2 linked regions of the Homo sapiens genome follow. The protein of the gene in region 1 interacts with the protein of each later gene in a biochemical or structural test. Each region holds a gene or a part of one and is shown in the gene's direction. Other genes may lie near its edges. The genes, in order: WDR82 and SETD1B.

Region 1 (9,066 bases):
CTGGGTTCAAGCGATGCTCTTGCCTCAGCCTCCCAAGTAGCTGGTATTACAGGTGCCCACCAACACGCCCGGCTAATTTTTGTATTTTTAGTAGAGTTGGGACTTCACCATGTTAGTCAGGCTGGTCTCGAACTCCTGACCTCAAGTGATCTGCCTGCCTCATCCTCCCAAAGTGCTGGGATTACAGGTGTGAACCACCACGCCCGGCCAGGATTCTGTTTTTAAACTTATTTCAGTGGATTATTGATGATCATCTCACATTTTGCAGTAAGGTTTTTTTTAGGCCGGTGGCTACATAGTGGCTCATGCCTGTAATCCCAGCACTTAGGGAGGCCTAGGAGAGTGGATCACTTGAGCACAGAAGTTCGAGATTAGCCTGGGCAACTTGGGAAAACCCCGTCTCTACAAAAAATACAAAAATTAGCCAGGTGTGATGGGACGCGCCTGTAGTCCCAGCCACTTGTAAGGCTGAGGTGGGAGGATTGCTTGAGCCCTGGAGGTCTAGGGTGATCACACCACTGCACTCCAACCTGGGTGACAGAGCGAGGCTCCATCTCAAAAAAACAAAAAAGATTTTTCTAATGTCATTCCACAAGGATAGCTTATACTGCTATTTTGGCTGTGCCTATCTCAGAGCAGAATGGGCGGAAGTCCTTTTTTCCATTTTTTTTTTTTTTTAATGAGACTCTTCTGCCTGTATTGATTTTTAGTTAAGTATGTCATTTCTACTTTTCATGCCTGTATTTCAGAAGTGGTTTTCTAAGGAAGCAGTGTAGTTAATGATTTTGGAAAAGAATGTAAAACCTTAGGATCCTGAGGAAACATGTCTATGTGATCATCCGAATGACTGGTTTATTTCTTCTGTTGGGATGTTTTTCTGAGTGATTAAATGAGGATTCTCCAAATGTGGTGCAAGATGAGGCAAATGTGTGGCACTTGTAGCTTTGCTGCCAAGCCTCTGCTGTGAGGATGTTCCCTTTCCTGTCTCAAGTGCATCCTGAAGAGTTCCTCCAGCGCTCCGTTTCCTTTTGCCTGATTCCAGGCTGAGGTAGTAGTTTGTACAGTTTGAGGGTCTATGATACCACCCGGTACAGGAGATAACTGTACAGGCCACTGCCTTGCCAGGAACAGCGCGCCAGCTGCCAAGTGGGGCTGAGAGGATGGCGTCACCCTGCTCATCTCTGGGAAACCAGGTAATGGGGAGGAAGTCTTTTTCTTCTTAGGGCAGGTGAGTCATTGTTAGCAGTAGAATAACTAGAAATACTTCGTAGTTGTCATTCAAGAAGTTTGAAGATGTTTTCAAGGAAAATTGTGTAGTGTTCAAGTTATGGAATATACAAATATCCCTATTCCCCTATTCCCCCTCCCAAGTTAAATGCCCTCTTATTAGAAAGCACCCCTGTGAACCCCTGGGATGACTCGATGCTTTCAACCCCTTTATTCCTATGTTCTGTTTGCCTTCAGAATGTTCTTTCTATGGTTTTCTTTCTGCATTTTGGTACCATTTTCCCTTAGCTGTTTCTCAACAATTTTTCCTTATTCCTAGTCTTTTTAAGGGGATAATACTTTTCTATTTTGCAGTTTTATTCTTTATGGCACTTCATTTCTCTACCGCCACCATGTTTTTTGTTTGTTTACTCTTTCAGATAGAATCATTTGGTTAAGAGTGTCTTATTTTTCCACAAGCACAAATCTCTGATTGTTCCTTTCTTTAATATTGTCAAAATCTCACTGCTATTACTCATTGGTATAAGAATTTGATTTTTTTAATGTCTTAAGATCTTTTTAACCCAGATCTTGACATCACTTCTCTGACGTTTTGTTTATTTTCATTGTAATTTGTGTGTCCAATTGAAGAATGTTCAAATGAGTTGAGGGTGGGTCAACATACTGATGGAGAACTCTAGACAAAAATTGCTGCCAGGGTTCAACCTGATCTTCAGTTTAACTGCCATGGCTGCTCACCTCTTTAAGTCTGTTAGCTCAACAGCCACATATTTTTCTTTAAGGTTTGCCATTCTGTGGACACTAGACCAGTATCTAAAATTATTATGTGTGCTTTACTTGTTTTTGTTTTTTGACCAGGGTATATTTGCAGGGTGGGAGTTGCATTGTAATTATGAAGAAACCAAATTGGTAATAAAAGGTCATTTCAAACATTGCTTTCTATGCTGTCAACTTAAGAACTCTGCTTTTGAGTTAGGTGAAATCTACATACCCACTCTTCAGCTGCAGAGTAGAATTATTCACCATTATTTATTCATGCCTTGCTTGGGATATAGAATACAATGGATTATTTGACCTTGTCTTTTTAAGATGAAAATGTAAAGTAAATTTCTTTTAAATAGTATGATATCATCATACCTTGTTTGTCTTTTTACAGATACTATTCGTTACTTGTCCTTGCATGACAACAAATACATCAGATACTTTCCTGGACATAGCAAAAGGTAAGACCCACGTATTATAGAAGCAGATAGTTCTTTTATCCCTGAGGTTACCCAGAGAATAGAAGGCTAGAGAGAGCTTATTAGTGAACTGAAGCTACTTCCTCACTACTGCTTGGCATTCTTCATCTTCTCTTAAATAGTCAACTCTTGATTTACTGAGGTTATAGAGGTGCAGAGGTAGGTGTTCAGAGATACCTCAGTTAAAATATAACTAGGCCCAGTGCAGTGGCTCACACCTGTAATCCCAGCACTTTGGGAGGCCGCGGCGGGCGGATCACTTGAGGCCGGGAGTTTGAAACCAGCCAGGCCAACGTGTCAAAACCCCATCTCTACTAAAAATACAAAAATTAGCCAGGTATGGTGGTGGACACCTGCAATCCCAGCTACTCGGGAGGCTGAGGCAGGAGAATCGCTTGAACCCAGGAGGCAGAGGTTGCAATGAGCCGAGATCGCGCCACTGCACTCCAGCTTGGGCGACAGAGTGAGACTCCGTCTCAAAGATATATATGTATATATATTTTTTCTAGTTATAGGTATATCTATTTCTAGTTAGATATATATATTTCTAGTTTTATATATACATATAAAACTAGAAAAAATGTGGATTAAAGATATTCAGTGAAAACTTATGTAGTAAAAATTAGATTTGGCATTTAGGAATACCAAATCTCACATATCCCTTAATAAAGGACTGTTTGTGTTTATGAGGCCTTCCAATATATGTGGCCCCCATTTCAGTGGGCCCCTATGTAAAAATGTTCCATTTAAAGATCTTAATGAGAATGCAAAAGAAAGTCCTTTTTTTAAAATCAAGAAGTTTATCTCCTTTTTCTGTATTGTAATGCAGGTTGCTTCTCTCTGTTCTTCACCCCAATGCCCCTAGTTACTTTTTTCTCTAATTTTTCAACTTTTCTTTGAATGTTAAACACGTTTTCCCCTGGATAATATTTTAATCACTTGGGGTATTTTTTCCTGCATCCATTTGCAAATGTACAGTAACCCAGGATGGTTTCGATTGGTATGGAGCCCTGACAGGAGATGGCCTGAGAGCCTCCTGTTAGAAATTGCACTTCCAGGCCAGGCGTGGTGGCTTAATGCCTGTAATCCCAGCTCTTTGGAAGGCTGAGGAGGACAGATTGCTTGAGTGCAGGAGTTCAAAACCAGGCTAGGCAACATGGTGAAACCCTGTCTCTACAAAAAATACAAAAATTAGCCAGGAGTGGTGGTGTGCGCCTGTAATTCCTACTACTTCGGAGGCTCAGGCACGAGAATTGCTTGAACCCGCGAGACAGAGGCTGCATTGAGCCAAGGTGGCGCCACTGCACTCCATCCAGCCTGGGTGACAGAGCAAGACCCTGTCTCAAAAAAAAAAAAAAAAAAAAAAAGTTGCACTTCCAGTTGGGCAGGCCATTTGTGTTGCTGAAATAAAGGTGAAATAAGGTGGCAACCAGTGGTAACTGGTTTCAGACAAAGGATGGCTCATGATAAGTAGATGTTTTGCTTGTTTTTATTCAAATTAATGTTCACAAATGTACTATTTGTAATTAAGAGTTGATGCAGTTGTTTGACGTGCTTTCCAGTCTTCCCAATTATTCAACCTCTTGACCTCCTGATTCTTTTTTTTTTTTTTTTTTTTTTTTTTTTTTTTTTTTGAGACAGAGTCTCGCTCTGTCGCCCAGGCTGGAGTGCAGTGGTGCAATGTTGGCTCACTGCAGGCTCCGCCTCTTGGGTTCACGCCATTCTCCTGCCTCAGCCTCCTGAGTAGCTGGGACCACAGGCACCCGCCACCAAGCCCCGCTAGTTTTTTGTATTTTTAGTAGAGATGGGGTTTTACCGTGTTACCCAGGATGGTCCCTGATCCGCCCGCCTCAGCCTCCCAAAGTGCTGGGATTACAGACGTGAGCCACCGCACCCGGCTGGCCGACCTCCTGATTCTTGATAGATGACTTTGTCCCTCCTTTTATGAGAAAATCAAGGCTATACAAAATGAGTTATTTCAGCTGGGTGTGGTGGTTAAGGCCTGTTATCAGCACTTTGGGAGGCTGAGGTGAGAGGATCGCTTGAGTCTGGGAGGTTGAGGCTGCAGTGAGCCATGATTGTGCCACTGTACTCCAGCCTGGGTGACAAAGCAAGACCGTGTCTCCAAAAAAAAGAGTTCTTTTAAACATCTATCCCTTCCACCTAAATTCTGTCTTCCTTGGAATCCTTTCCTTGAGAAAGCTGTTGTCTTTCTTTCACAAAACAGACCTTCCTCTTTCTGCTTGCTTCCATCTCCTTAATTGGCCTTTCCTTTGTTGCCTACAAATTTACTTGGTCTTTCTTATCTTAAATCTACTTATTGACCCTATCACCCACTCCTTTTCACTATCAAACTTGAAAGAAGAATCTGTACATTCCCATCTCCACCTCCTCACACATGTTCACTGTTGAAATCATTTTTGCACTAGTCCCAGAATCGTCTATGGGGCTTTATCCAAACCTTTATCCTTCATTCCCTGCTGCCTCTAGTTAAAAAGCCACTGGTTTGGGCTTTTCTTGGTGCTTAACCTCTCAGTAAAACTTACTTTCCCGTGGCAGGTGACTTTTCCCATGTCGGTTCTGTTCTTGTAGTTTTCAGCCTCTGTTTTGACTCTAAAATAAACAAATATTTTATCCGCTTTCTTATCTCCATCGCTGATTTCATTTACCTCCATTCAGGTGGCTTCCCAAATCAGTATTTTTAGCTCATGTCTATTATCAGTTTCAGACCCGCCTTCCACCTACAGGTTTTGTTTGTTTTTTTGTTTTTTGAGATGGAGGCTCACCGGGTCACCCAGGCTGGAGTGCAATGGCATGATCTTGGCTCACTGCAACCTCCACCTCCTGAGTTCAAACGATTCTCCTGCCTCAGCCTCCCGAATAGCTGGGATTACAGGCACGCACCATCATGCCCGGCTAATTTTTGTGTTTTTATAGAGACAGGGTTTCACCATGTTGGCCAGGCCGCTGTCAAACTCCTGACCTCAGGTGATCCATCCGCCTCAGCCTCCCAAAGTGCTGGGATTACAGGCATGAGCCACTGCACCCAGCACCACCTACATGTTTTATACACATCTTTGTAGCTGTCTCTTCTGTCCAATACTCTTTCTAATACTCAGGTCCAGTACTCTGTCCATCATTGTTACCTTTTTTGGGCCAGCTTCTCTCTGTCTTCCTCATATTTATTCATCTCTGTCTCTTCCAATTCTGGCTCAAAGCATCTGTTGTTAGTTCACTCTTTTTCCCCTGCCATCATATTCAGTGAGTTGTTAAACTATTTAGTTCTCCCTAGGTTTAACCTCATGTGTCACTTTCCTCTGTGTTCTCTCCTTTGCTTCTGCCCTGGCTCATGCCCTGTGAGGTAAATTATTGTTAGCTCCTAATTAATCTTCCCATCTCTTACCATCCTGTTTCAGCTTCCTGGATTGCAGTTTGATTGCTTCACAATCTCTCTTAATGGTTCTCTATATTTTCATTGCTCCTTCCCCTTGTAGTCAGGTTCTGTCCCTTCTGGCTCTGACCCATTTTCTCAGCATTTTCTCCCACCATTCCCATTAAGGTGAACTCTGGGCTACTTCTTTGAAATCCTTTCTACCTCAGATGTTGTATCTTTCCAGAAGCCTTCTCTGGTCCTCTTGGAGTCATGTGGACTGGACAGTTAAAATTCCTTACGGTCGGGGTCTTACTTCTCCATGTGTTCCCTGTACTTCTCAGCATAGAGTCTTGTGCTGAGCTCTTGGGCTGAATGCCATGGCATAAAATTACATGTCCACAACGTGTTCTGCTCATTCTGATTTTTGTTTTTTGAGACGGTGCCTTGCTCTGTTTCCCAGGCTGGAATGCAGTGGTGTGATCTTGGCTCACTGCAGCCTCCATCTCTGGGGTTCAAGCGATTCTTCCGCCTCAGCCTCTTGAGTAGCTGGGATTACAGGTGTACGCCACCAGGCCTGGCTAATTTTTGTATTTTTATTAGTGGTGGGATTTCACCATGTTGGCCAAGCTGGTCTCAAACTCCTGACCTCAGGTGATCGCCCACCTGGGCCTCCCAAAGTGCTGGGATTACAGGCATGAGCCACCGCACCTGGCCTGCTCATTGTGTTTTATTACCTCCTCAGCATTCTCAGGAAATTTTGGCTTTTAACAATACCTTTTAAAATTTTAACTTGAGGAGCTGGTGCAGATGTTAGTTGAGTTACATTGGAAGAAAATGTTTTTCAGTGAGTGTCTCTTGATGGTATAACCACAAAAGGGAACCAAAAAAGGAATACAGTTGCTGTTAGCATAGGCTTGTGGTTCTCTAGGTGTGGTGCCCAAAACAGCAGCCTCACCCATCACCTGGGGGCTAGTTAGAAACTCAGATTCACAGACCCCAAGTCAGGCCTACTGGATTAGAGGCTCTGGGAGCAGATCCTAGCAGTCTGTTTTAACCCACCCTCCAGGTGATGCTGATGCCACTTAGGTTTGAGAATATCTGTGTAGTCCTCACACATCTTGATAAGGAATCATGCTTTTTTGTGTTTTTTTAATTGAGATACAGTCTACATACTGTAAATGATTCCTTTAAAAATGTACAGTTCAGTGGTTTTTACTATATTTGCAAAGTTGGACAACTATCACCATCATCTAACTTCAGAACATTTTTATCACTCCAAAGAGAAACTCTGTACCCATTAGTAATCACTCCCTCAGCCCCTACCAACTGCTGATCTACTTCTGTCTTTATAGATTTGCCTATTCTAGACATTTTGTGTAAATGGATCAGTTCATATCTGATCTTTTGTGCCTGGCTTCTTTTACTTAGCATGGTGTTCCCAAGGTTCCTCCATGTTGTCACATGAGGCAGTACTTTATTACTTTTTATTGCCAAATAATGTTCCAGTGTATAGATACAGCACATTTTGTTTGTCCATCCATTAGTTAATGGACCATTTGGGTTATTTCTACTTTTTGGCTGTTATGAATAGTGCAGATCTGAACATATGTGTACATTTTTGTGTGGACATATATTTTCAGTTATCTTGGGTAAATACCTAGGAGTGGAGTTTCTGGGTCACGTGGTAACTTTTTTTGGAAAAACTTTTCCAAAGCAACTGTACCATTTTTACATTTCCATTAGCAATGTATGAGGGTTCCAATTTCTCTGCATCCTCACCAACACTTGTTATCTCTCTTATTATAGCTATGCTAGAGGGTGTGGAGTAGTATTTCATTGTGGTTTTGATTTGCATTGGAATCATATATTTTTATTTTGTAGCTTTAAATTTTTTTTTTTATACTAGTTGCCTTTGTTTGTTCCAGATATGGTTGTGGTATGTGTGTTTTATTGTGTTTCTTAAAATGGCAATTTTGGGAGAACAGGTATATATATGTATAGATAGGCAGAGTGGTTTAGAATTCACATCCAATTTTTGCTAATATTTCGCATCAACTCCTATTTATCTCGATGTATTGCAGGGTGGTGGCCTTGTCCATGTCACCTGTGGATGACACTTTCATTTCTGGGTCTCTTGATAAGACCATTCGACTCTGGGATCTCCGGTCTCCTAACTGCCAGGTAATGGTACCTCACAGTTATACTTTTTGAGCATTTTCTTTGGTAGGCACTGTAATGAACTCTACCTCTCAAAGAAGGGAGAAAACAGTGGTTCCATTCTGGGATCACAGGGTCTTTTTAAACTTTGGAGAAAATCTGTTTTTTTAGTTGGTAGCTGCTAAGCACATACCCTAATCTAGTGCAGATTGCATTGTACTCTGTGGCTTAATTGTTGTGGGTTTTTTGTTGTTTTGTTTTGTTTTTGTTTTTGTTTTGAGACAGGGTTTCGCTCTTGTTGCCCAGGCTGGAGTGCAATGGTGCAATCTCAGCTCACCGCAACCTCCACCTCCAGGGTTCAAGCGATTCTTCTGCCTCAGCCTCCCAAGTAGCTGGGATTACAGTCATGCACCACCATGTCTGGCTAATTTTGTATTTTTAGTAGAGACGGGGTTTCTCCATGTTGGTCAGGCTAGTCTCCTGACCTCAGGTGATCCTCCTACCTTGGCCTCCCAAAGTTCTGGGATTATAGGCGTGAGCCACTGCGCCCAGCTGGCTTAATGTTTTTAAAAGTGTTCCTAGAGCTTTTAGCTTCAAGGGATTTATTTTTATTTGAATTCTGTGTCTGTAATATTGTGCAGTTAGAGTTGATCAGAAATTGTTGTCTGGAGACCTGTTTTTTAAAAGCTTCATTTTAGTTTTATGTTTTTTTTGTGTGTGTTCTGTAGGTAGGCTGATATTTGTTTGTATGCCTTTCTTAGTTTTAATTGGGAAAAGTAAATTATATAGTGGTAAGGTCCTGGATTCATTTTTTTTTCCCCATTGTACCAGCAGTCTTTGGTTATTCCACGTATGGTTGTGGCATGTGTGTTTTAGTGTATTTCTTATTTCTTTTCTCTTAGGGCCTCATGCATCTGCAGGGGAAGCCAGTTTGTTCTTTTGATCCAGAAGGGTTAATTTTCGCTGCAGGTGTCAACTCTGAAATGGTCAAGCTTTATGACCTTCGTTCTTTTGATAAGGTAAATCTTTGAATCTTTGAGATCTTTGAGCTGTTTTTTGTTTTGTTTT
Region 2 (9,411 bases), on another chromosome or scaffold:
AATGTGAACCTCAATTTTTATCAGGTGCTTTCGCCCTCTTGCTGTACTTGGGCAGCGGGGAGTCTGGGCAGGAACACTCTTCCCTCCCAGCAAAGGAGCTGGACCCAGCACGGCTCATCGGGGATTGAAGACCCAGCCCTGGCCCTCACAGGAGGAGCCAACAGCACCACGCCAGTTACTTCCAACCAGACAGTCCCGGGCAGGGATGCCAGCAGACAGCTGGCACGGGAGGAAGCCCAAAATAACCCAGACAGCTGGGGTGAGGGGGTGCCATGGGCACAGGCGCTGGCTGCCAAGTCAAGCCACCTGGAACCCCATCCTGGCTCTATTGGTGGTGGCCTTGTGACCTTGGGGAGTCACTTCTCCCCGGACCATGGGTGGGTGACCCAAATCTTGACCCCATCATGGAACAGCCCCTGTGGATGGGGAAAGGCCTGCAGCTGGACTCAACCACTCCAGAGGAGAACCGCGTTGGCCGCCTTCCCAGGGAGCGCCAGATTCCCCTTTGCCCTGAGGCAGGGACACGTGCTTCAGCAGGTGGGCTGGTGCGGGGGGAAGCTCTGAGGCAGCCCAGCCCCCACCCCCTGCAGCCACTCCCAGCAATAACCACGATCACAATGGAGGCCAACTAAAAGCTTGGGAGGAGGGCCTCTTTAACGCACTTAATCCTCCCACCACCCTTTCCAGCAGGCATCCTTATCACTTTACAGGGAGACACTCACCCAAGGTCACCAGCACTGAGAGATCCTAGCCCATGGCGAACTATCTCCCTTAACTTAGCACCAAGATACCTTTAGCAAGATCTCCTTGTTAATCCGAACAGGCCCCCAGAGCTCGGTGTAGCCCTCACAGCGGGAGTGGGGCACAAGTCCCAAATAGGGGAGGTGGTGTGATCAGGAGCACCTGGACCCAAATGGTTCATCAAAGCAATCACAAAGCAGAAATCACAAGGAGGGGGGCTCCGAGACCAAGGGCCGCCATCTCCAGCTGTGGAGCTTCTTAGACACTGAGATGGGAAACTATTCAATACATGAAGTCGGCTAGCGTTAGAATGAAATCAATTACTATGTGCCAAGCGTGGAACGTGGCACTTCTGCGTCAAAACCCCAGGTGTTACCAGGCTAGGGGCTGGAGTCTCAAAATGTGTTCCCAGACCACAGCATCAGCCTCACCTCACCTGGGAACTTGTTAGAAATGCCAGTCCTAAGGACCAACCCACTGAATCAGACACTTGGGCACCAGGCCCGGTGGTCCATTTTCAGTGAGCCCCCCTTCCGGTGTGATTCTGATGCCGGTTCCAGACTAAGAACCACTGATCTAGCCCTGTTTTCGGAGATGGAGAAATAGGCTTGGAGGCTATACCGCTTACGCAAGGCCATAGCTGTTCAATGGCTCGCCAGGTTTCAAATCCAGCTTTGTCTGGTTCTAGAAACAAGGCTTATATACAGGCCTGCCCATTCGGGGACTGGAGAAGAAAACAATCCCAGGAAGGTGGAGAAGCGTCAAGGAAGGCCCTTTCATAGAGAAAGGTGGCCGGAACCTCGGGTCTCTGTTCTTTGCCTCTCTAGCAGCCAGACATCAGAGGACGGCTCACACTGTCACCCCACATGCCCCACGGGGGCGGCTGGAGGGAAGGCCACAGCACAGTTGGGCTTTCTGACAGTGACCTGTGTCTTTCAGAAGTAGGCGGCACCCAGGGCCCTCCCCCCGCCGAAGAACACACAACTGGGAAATACTTGCAAGTGGATCCTCTCGTATGCTGCTATATTCGGCAGAGACTTACACGCCCCAAATGCCTGACAACAGAAGCTGACAGACGGGGATGGATGGCCCCGGCGGCCCAGCAGGCGGCCCTACGCGCTCGCAGCTGGGGGGGGGGGGGTGGGGTGGGGCGGGGCCGCAGAACCAGCCCGGCGTGTTTGGGGTTCGGCCCTCCCTGGGCTGCAGGCCAGAGCCCCCCAAATCTCCCTCACGGTCTGGGCAAGTACTCACACCTACCTTAGTGGGAGGACTGTCAGAGTCAAACTAGGCCTGCCCCTGCCGTTGACAGAAGGAAAGATTGTCCATTCGGGGGGTGCCCGAACGTCGCCCCTTCTCCGGCCCAGAACCTGGAGGAGAGGAAGGTGGAGGGCGGATCAGGGCGTTGGGGGAGAGAGATGTGACCGGCCGAATACACAGCAGACGGGCTCCGGGGCTGAAAGGGAGCACCCCAGACGCCGCCCCTCCCCCAGCGGCCCGGGCGGCCGGGGGTGGCTGAGTCAGAAGGTTCAACCCCGGCCCGGGCGGCGGCTCATCTGCATTTCCAAAGGCCCGCCCCGCCCGCACCCTCCCCGGGAAGGGCCGGAGATCTGAGGCTTCGCCGGGAGCCCCGCGCCTCGGGGGATCCCGGGGCCCCCCCTCCGCTTTCCCAGGCTTCCCCCACCTCCTGCCTGGAGAGCTGGGCTGGAGGGCTGCCCAACGGGGCGTCTGCGGCCACCCCGAGGGCCTCCCGCCCTGAGTGAGGACAAAGGGGGCGACCCCCCGCCCCGCGCTGACTCGGCTCTCAGAGGGCGACTGGGAGGTCGGACCTGGGCGCCCAGAGCTGGGTGGGCAGCGGGGGGCGGCCTGGGGTCAGGGCCAGGCCGGTCCGCGGCTTCCGGAGGAGCCGGTGGGACCCGGGGCGGCCTCGAAGCCCCGCCGACCCCGTGGCCCTCGGCTGCGGGCGCCCGCGCAGGACAAAGACGAAAGAGGGAAGCGGTCCGGGGCGAGGCCTCCTGGTGCCCGCGTGGGCCGCCGGGTCGCCCAGCCCCCTACCCCTGCCGCTCCTCCCGCCCGGCGCGCGGCGGCCGCCACCGCCCCAGCCACGGGCAGCGCGCGAAATGGCGCCCATCAGGCCGCCGCGCCCGGCTGAGGCGAGCGCGGGAGGCGCGGCGCGCGACGCCCCCGAGGCCCACGGCCCCCGAAACGGCCCCCGACACCCGGTCGCCAGCGCTGCGCCCCGCGGGCTCTCGGGGCCCGACCTGGCCGCGGGCCCGCCTCCTGCTCCGGGCTCCCCACGACCGGGGGGACGGAGGAAAGGAGGAAGGAAGGAAAGAGAGCCGCCGCCATTAGCAAAGCAGCCCTGCCCGGCTGGGCCCGCCTGCCAGACCAGCCCGGCCCAGCCGCGACGGGCTCGAAGCCTGTAAAGAAAACTGGTGTTTGGGAGGAGGAGCGAGCGCGGCCGGGAGGACAGCAGCTCCGGGCTGCGGGCGGAGATGCTGCGTCATGGTGCCAACATGGACGCCGGCCTTTTGTCCTCCTTCGCGTTGCCAGCGCAGGCGCGCCCCGGAGCCCCGAGAAGCCGGCTTCGGGGTGCGGAATCCTCACGATCGAAAGGAAAGTGGGCCCAAGGCTGGGCGATGAGGCTCCCTAGTGTTTTAAGCCCCCCCGTCTCCAAAGCACTTCAATTTCTTCTCCCCATCCAGGTTCAGACCTGGGAAGAGCGAGGGGGCGAAGGCAGGCGGCTCCATGGACCCCCGAGGGTCGCTGCGAAGCCCGTCTTCTCGCCCTTGGGGCAGAAGAGGCACAGGGGTCCGAAGAGCCCTTCGTGTCCCAACCCCCCGCCCACTGCCCGCTCCGGCTGCCAAATACAATGCTCCAGAATCCTCCTTCTCCTCTCAGCTCCCAAACACTTGCAGCCCTTGCTTGGCCTGCAAAAGGGTTTCCTCGAAGGGGCAAAAGGCACTTTTTATCTTTCTTACTTACCCGCTCAGCCCGGTGCCATGGAGTCTAGAAGATCAAGCTGGGCGGTGGTTTTGGAGACGTTATTGTAAAAACATATATATTTTTTGATTTAGTTGGGAAATTTGGGGGTTATGGTGGTGTCTTTGTTCTTATTACCTTTTTGTAAGTTACACCCTCACGTTCTGCTCCTTCCACTTCTGCAAACTTTCCAGGGTTGGGTAGGCAAAAAGGCGGCTTCGCTGAGGACTGTTTACTGCTCTGGATATAGCAATGGTGTGATCGTCATTAAGAGACAAAAGGCGAAAATACAGTCAAATCAAACAAAAGGCACAAGACGCACCAGCCGCCCAACCACCATAGAAAATACCCCCCACTTAACGTTGGTGTTTGCTGGAACCAGCTAGGACTTGTTTTCCAGTTTTAATCTAGTTTCCTGTGACGGCTTTAGTCTCTCTACACAAAGAAAAGGTCTTCCTTTCCCTCACCCACCAGCTCCCCCCAACCCCCAACACCAAAGACGAGAAAAACAGGGCTGTTTTTCTTCAAATAGATCGATTTTCAAAGAAAGTGTACAAGCTACGGGGAAGAAAGCTGACTAGCATTTAGTGCTGTAAACATTTTCAAAAGCATAAAGCTAGAACCTTAGCTTTATAAAGCAAGATCGTCTCAAGCATCTTAACTGGCTTATATTAGACAAGAGAGACAAAGACATACATGCAGATGAAGGTTCGGAAAATTAAGGACATCTCAGCAACATTAACATCAAAACTGTACTGCGTCAGGACAGAATGGATTGGGTACTTACAATGTAAAAGGTTTTTTAAAAACTAAAAGAGTAACAACTGCTCACAATTTTTTGTTGCTGCCATTTCGCTAGTCCTAAAGCTATATACATTTAAAACATTACCTTGTTAAAAAGAGAGAAGGAGTTAATAAGATGGCCAGGTTTAAGTGTTTAATAGAGGAAACTAGATATATTTAAAAATTTATTGTTCAGTCAAGAGAATACAGATTAAGACAGCTCCAAGCTCCCCCCACCCACCCATAGAACAAAAAGAGGAAAAAAAATATGTCATTTACTTAGGTTTTTTTGGAATTCAAAACTGTTAACTGCTGACATGAATGGTGTGCTATGACCTAGTTATACAAGACAAAGATGGATTCCAAGTCATAAGGAAAAATCCAGATCTTTTTAAAAAGTCTTCTCCAGTCTTCCAACTGTGAGTCCTTGGGCCTGTTGACAAATGTTAAACACACTGAGACGTCCTGAACTGGATGGTAGAGTCAAAGGAAAAACATTCCCCATTTGCAACAAAGGAAAAACCCACTTGGCCATTTAATTCCATTGCAGAAAAATGGCTTCCCTCATCTGTTGGCCTCTCCTTCGTGTCTGATGAAGGATGTTTTGAGATCAGCGTCTAATAACTCAAGCCCTATAGAAGCCGCGCGCTGATTGGCTGCCGCGCCCTGCCGCCCTGCTCCAGCCAATTACCTACCCACGGCCAAATTACAAACCCCGAAAAGAGCCCCAATATGAGCTACACCAGCTCCGAGCCCCGGCGAGGCGGCTCCTGCGCCTCGGCCGCCAGAGAGGAGCGGCAGAGGGGGCTGCAAACGCGTCCTCGCGAAGCCCGGGAGCCTCGGAGTTGAACTCACAAAATGGAAGCCGCGCGCTGATTGGCCGCCGCCACTCCCGGACCTTTAATAAAGAAAGGGGAAGGAAAAGATAAATGCAAAAAAGGGGGACTCTCTCCTCCGCGGGTGGCTGGAGGAAGGGGGGGAAGCATGTGTTCAGGACAATTACAGGGCGCTCCCCTCCAAAAATAAAAACAGAAGAAGGCGTCTATCGCCCAGGTCCAGGCGAGGGCTGCATCCTCCCAGGAATGCGAATGCTAACGTGGTGAACCCTGGTCTCCCTTCCCCAGCTCAGCTCCGGGGAGGGGGTCGCGGGCCGCAGGAGGAAGCCGGAGCGCAGATACCTCGATTGCAACTCCTCTGAGTCGACGCCGGCCTCCCCCCGCGGCTCCCAGCGTCCACACACACCCTCGGCCCCCCAGACCCCAGCCATCTCCCCGGGCCCCGCGCGCCCGCCTCCGGCCCGGGCAGTTTGGAAACAGTTTTGCAGGCCCGGGACGCACGCCGCGGCGGTCGCGGCTCTGAGGGTAGTCCCGGCCGCGGGAGGTAGAGCCCGGGGAGACCCCCTCCCCCGCCAGCCAAGACCCCCACCCCAGTCCCAGAAAAATAAATAAATTAAAAGGCCTTCCCCCGGGGAGGGGGAGGCAGTGTGGGAGCGCGCGAGTGAGGGGTGGGGGGCCGCTGGGGCCCGGGGCTTTGGCGGCGCAGCTGCCGCCGCCGGGAGAGTGCCTGGGGAAGCGGCGAGGAAGGAGAGGGGAGGAGGAAGAGGAGGAGGAGGAGGAAGAGGAGGAGGGTGAGCGCTCGGGTCGGGCTCCTTAGCGGTGTATTGTGGGATGTGCGGCTACTGGGAGCCGAGCCTCCGCCGCCAGCCGCCTCCCGGGCAGCAGCAGCAGCAGCGGCGGCGGCAGCGGCAGCAGCTCCGGGCCCGGCAGCCGCGGCGGCGGCGCCCCCCCTTCCTGGCCCCCGGTCCGGCCGCCCCGGCCTCGGCTCCCTCGGGGGACACCATGTACTGGCTGGCGGCGCAGGGAGGCCGGCGCCCGGCGGGGATGTAAGCGCGGCTCGGGGAGGGAGAGGCCGCGGCCGGCAGCCGGGCGGCCCAAGCCCCCGGCCCCGGCCCTGGCCCGAGCGGGCGAGCGGGCGGGCGGGCGGCGGCGCCGCCAGGCCCTGCCGCCAGCCTCGCGCCAGAGCCGGGCCGAGCTAGCGGGTGAGCGCCACGCCGGGCGGCCGGGCGGGCACCATGGGCCGGAGTCCGCGTCCTCCGGGCGCCCCGGGCCCCGCCAGCCCGCCCAGGGGACCCCCGGGAGCCCCTCGCTGCCGCCCCGAGACGGTGGCCGAGCGGGCGGGCGCGTAATTCTCCCGGAAGGGTTATTCTCTCGCTCCATTCTTGTTTTGGGGGGAGCCAGCGAGACAGCTCCTTTCGGGGCGCGCTGGCAAGGTGGGAGGGGGTGGGGGCCTGCCGATTGGATTCTTTCGCGTGTGTGTAGAAGCGGCCGCCGCCGCCGCCGCGGCGGAGACGACAACAACTTGCTGGTTTTCAGGTTGGGTTAACGGCATGGAGAACAGTCACCCCCCCCACCACCACCACCAGCAGCCCCCGCCGCAGCCCGGCCCTTCGGGCGAGAGGAGGAACCACCATTGGAGAAGTTACAAGTTGATGATTGACCCGGCTCTGAAAAAGGGGCATCATAAACTGTACCGCTACGATGGGCAGCATTTCAGCCTGGCGGTGAGTAGCCGGCGCGCCCCCCCAGCCGTGCCCCGCGTCGTGTCCGGGGAGACGCGCCTAGCGGCCAGGGACCCCCCGCCCGATCCCCCGGCCAACTGTCAGACGGGGCCCCAGCCCTGGAGTTTGACAAGTGCCTCGAGAAAGGGGTCTGCCCATGGGGAGGGGGACCAGTTCTCTCATCCCGGCCCCCCAATTTCTCCCCACAGATGTCCAGCAACCGCCCGGTGGAAATTGTCGAAGATCCCCGGGTCGTCGGGATCTGGACCAAAAACAAGGAGCTGGAGCTGTCGGTGCCCAAATTCAAGGTAGGACCCCTCCCCACTGCCCCGCCGTCCCTCCCCCACCTCCCCGAGTTCGAAAATAACGCCAGTCCTGACCGAGCCCAGCCGGATTCCCAGTTCCCGCCGTCCGGGGCCAGGGAAGTTTTGGCGGGGAGGGGTAGAGCGCTGGCGAGAGGGTGTCCCCTCTCAGCTACTGAAAACAAAATAACACTGGGTGAAACTGTAATCACGGCGCAGATACAGTGTCCTGCACGCCCCGCGGGGGGCTCGGCTCCGAGACTCTCCCCTCTCGCTAGCCCACTACAGGACAACTTCTTAAGCCTGAGGGGTCGCCCCTGACCCGGCAGCAGGAAGAGAAGGCCAGAAAGGGGGGTGGGGAAAGAGAAACTGTTTCTTTTTCCCCTTTCCTTCCGAACCCAGAGGACTTCCACGTTCCAAACGATTTAATCCTCCGCTTCCCGGGCCCGCCCGCGTGCATTTTTTTTTTCCAAAAAAAATTTTTTTTTTTTTTTTAATTTTTAGTTTTTTTACCCTTTATTGTTTTCAACGGGTGGGCGAGTTGCGGGCGGGGCGGGGGGGATGTTGTGTTTTCCCTTAGGTTTAAACGTTCTTCAAACTCCCTTCCCCCTCGGCCCCTGCCAGATCGATGAGTTCTACGTGGGCCCGGTGCCTCCGAAGCAGGTGACATTTGCCAAGCTGAATGATAACATCCGTGAAAACTTCCTGAGGGACATGTGCAAGAAGTATGGGGAGGTGGAGGAGGTGGAGATTTTGTACAACCCCAAGACCAAGAAGCACCTGGGCATCGCCAAGGTGGTCTTTGCCACGGTCCGGGGAGCCAAGGATGCCGTTCAGCACTTGCACAGCACTTCCGTCATGGGCAACATTATCCACGTGGAGCTGGACACCAAAGGTGAGCCTGGCAGGGGAGGAGCGTGGGGAGACCTGTCAGCCCGACCCTTTCCCTCCCCACCCTTCCTGCAGCGTGGGGAGGACCCCCCCTCACTCTTCCTTGGGATCCCCCCCCACAACCTTATTTCTTAGCCCCCTCCTGAGGGTAGAGTCGCGTGGAGCTAAATGTGTTGTCTGTTGCTAGGAGACAGTCTGTAATTTACCAAATGTGCCGGTCCTTGGCCACCGCACCCCTAGGGACCACCCGGAGGCTTCCCCACCGCTGACACCCCCGCGGGCCCCCTCTCTGAGCCCTGGTGGCTTGGGTTTAGACAGTCCCCAGTGTTGCCTGTGTTAGGGGAGGAGACAGAGTTTGTTTACTTGTGGGGGACTGAGGAAGTGCCACTAGGATGCCTTGAAATACATCAAGAGAAGGTCTGAAAACTGAAAAGAGAGTCCTCTAAGGATCCAGGGTGTCCCCCCACCTCCTTGCTGCCCCTTCCCCTCTGGAAGTGGCAGCCAATCTGGGGCCAGGAGTGTTGTTTCATTGATAAGGTTCTCGACAGAGCCGCCGGGGAAGAGCAGAGCCGGGAAGAGGGAAGAGCCAGGCAGGCGGCTCTGGGTGCTCAAGGGTTGACACTGTGTCTTCCCTCCTCTCTCTTAAAGAGACCGCAGCACCTCCCCTGCTCTGGAATCAGCTAGGTGCTCTCTGGAGCTGGCTGGGGAGGCCATACCTCCCACCCTGTGGGTCTTCGGAGGCCCCTGCAGGACCAAGGGGCTTGGAGGACTCGAGGGCATTCCCCAAAGTGTGCCTGAGGCCTCTTTAGGGAAGCTCCCACCTATAAAAGAAGGTGCCGAGTGCTTTGAGGGCCAGCCAGCTTGTGGGGAGATGTCATTCGGTCCCTAGCCCACCGGGGTCCCCTGGGAAACCCTGCCTGGGAGGGCAAAAGTGCAGCTTCCAGGAATTTTGTGAGCATGGCGTTCAGGGACAACTGGGACACACCAAACCCAAGGCAGGAAAATCAGAACTTTTCTTTTTTTGCGTTTAATGATTAAAATGTATTGACCGAGCTCTAAGCCGGTGCCGGGGGGTGGTGGCAGTTATTCCACGCACACTTGCCGAGCCTGTGCCCGGTTCTGTTCCTCCTCTCAGGGCACAGCCCTCTTTTTCTGTCC

What was found.
Region 2: the proteins of WDR82 (region 1) and SETD1B form a complex in vitro, tested with the Homo sapiens proteins (one study listed by BioGRID).

The regions. Positions count from the first base shown.
Region 1 is NC_000003.12:52,260,336-52,269,401, reverse strand, and holds part of WDR82 (WD repeat-containing protein 82), read left to right. Parts: intron 1-1,040; exon of another isoform or gene 1,041-1,124; intron 1,125-2,383; coding exon 2,384-2,450; intron 2,451-7,922; coding exon 7,923-8,022; intron 8,023-8,900; coding exon 8,901-9,017; intron 9,018-9,066. UniProt on the Homo sapiens protein: Regulatory component of the SET1/COMPASS complex implicated in the tethering of this complex to transcriptional start sites of active genes.
Region 2 is NC_000012.12:121,797,849-121,807,259, forward strand, and holds the start of SETD1B (histone-lysine N-methyltransferase SETD1B), read left to right. Parts: upstream 1-6,160; 5' UTR 6,161-6,385; intron 6,386-6,525; exon of another isoform or gene 6,526-6,541; intron 6,542-6,875; 5' UTR 6,876-6,889; coding exon 6,890-7,063; intron 7,064-7,269; coding exon 7,270-7,368; intron 7,369-7,986; coding exon 7,987-8,257; intron 8,258-9,411. UniProt on the Homo sapiens protein: Histone methyltransferase that catalyzes methyl group transfer from S-adenosyl-L-methionine to the epsilon-amino group of 'Lys-4' of histone H3 (H3K4) via a non-processive mechanism.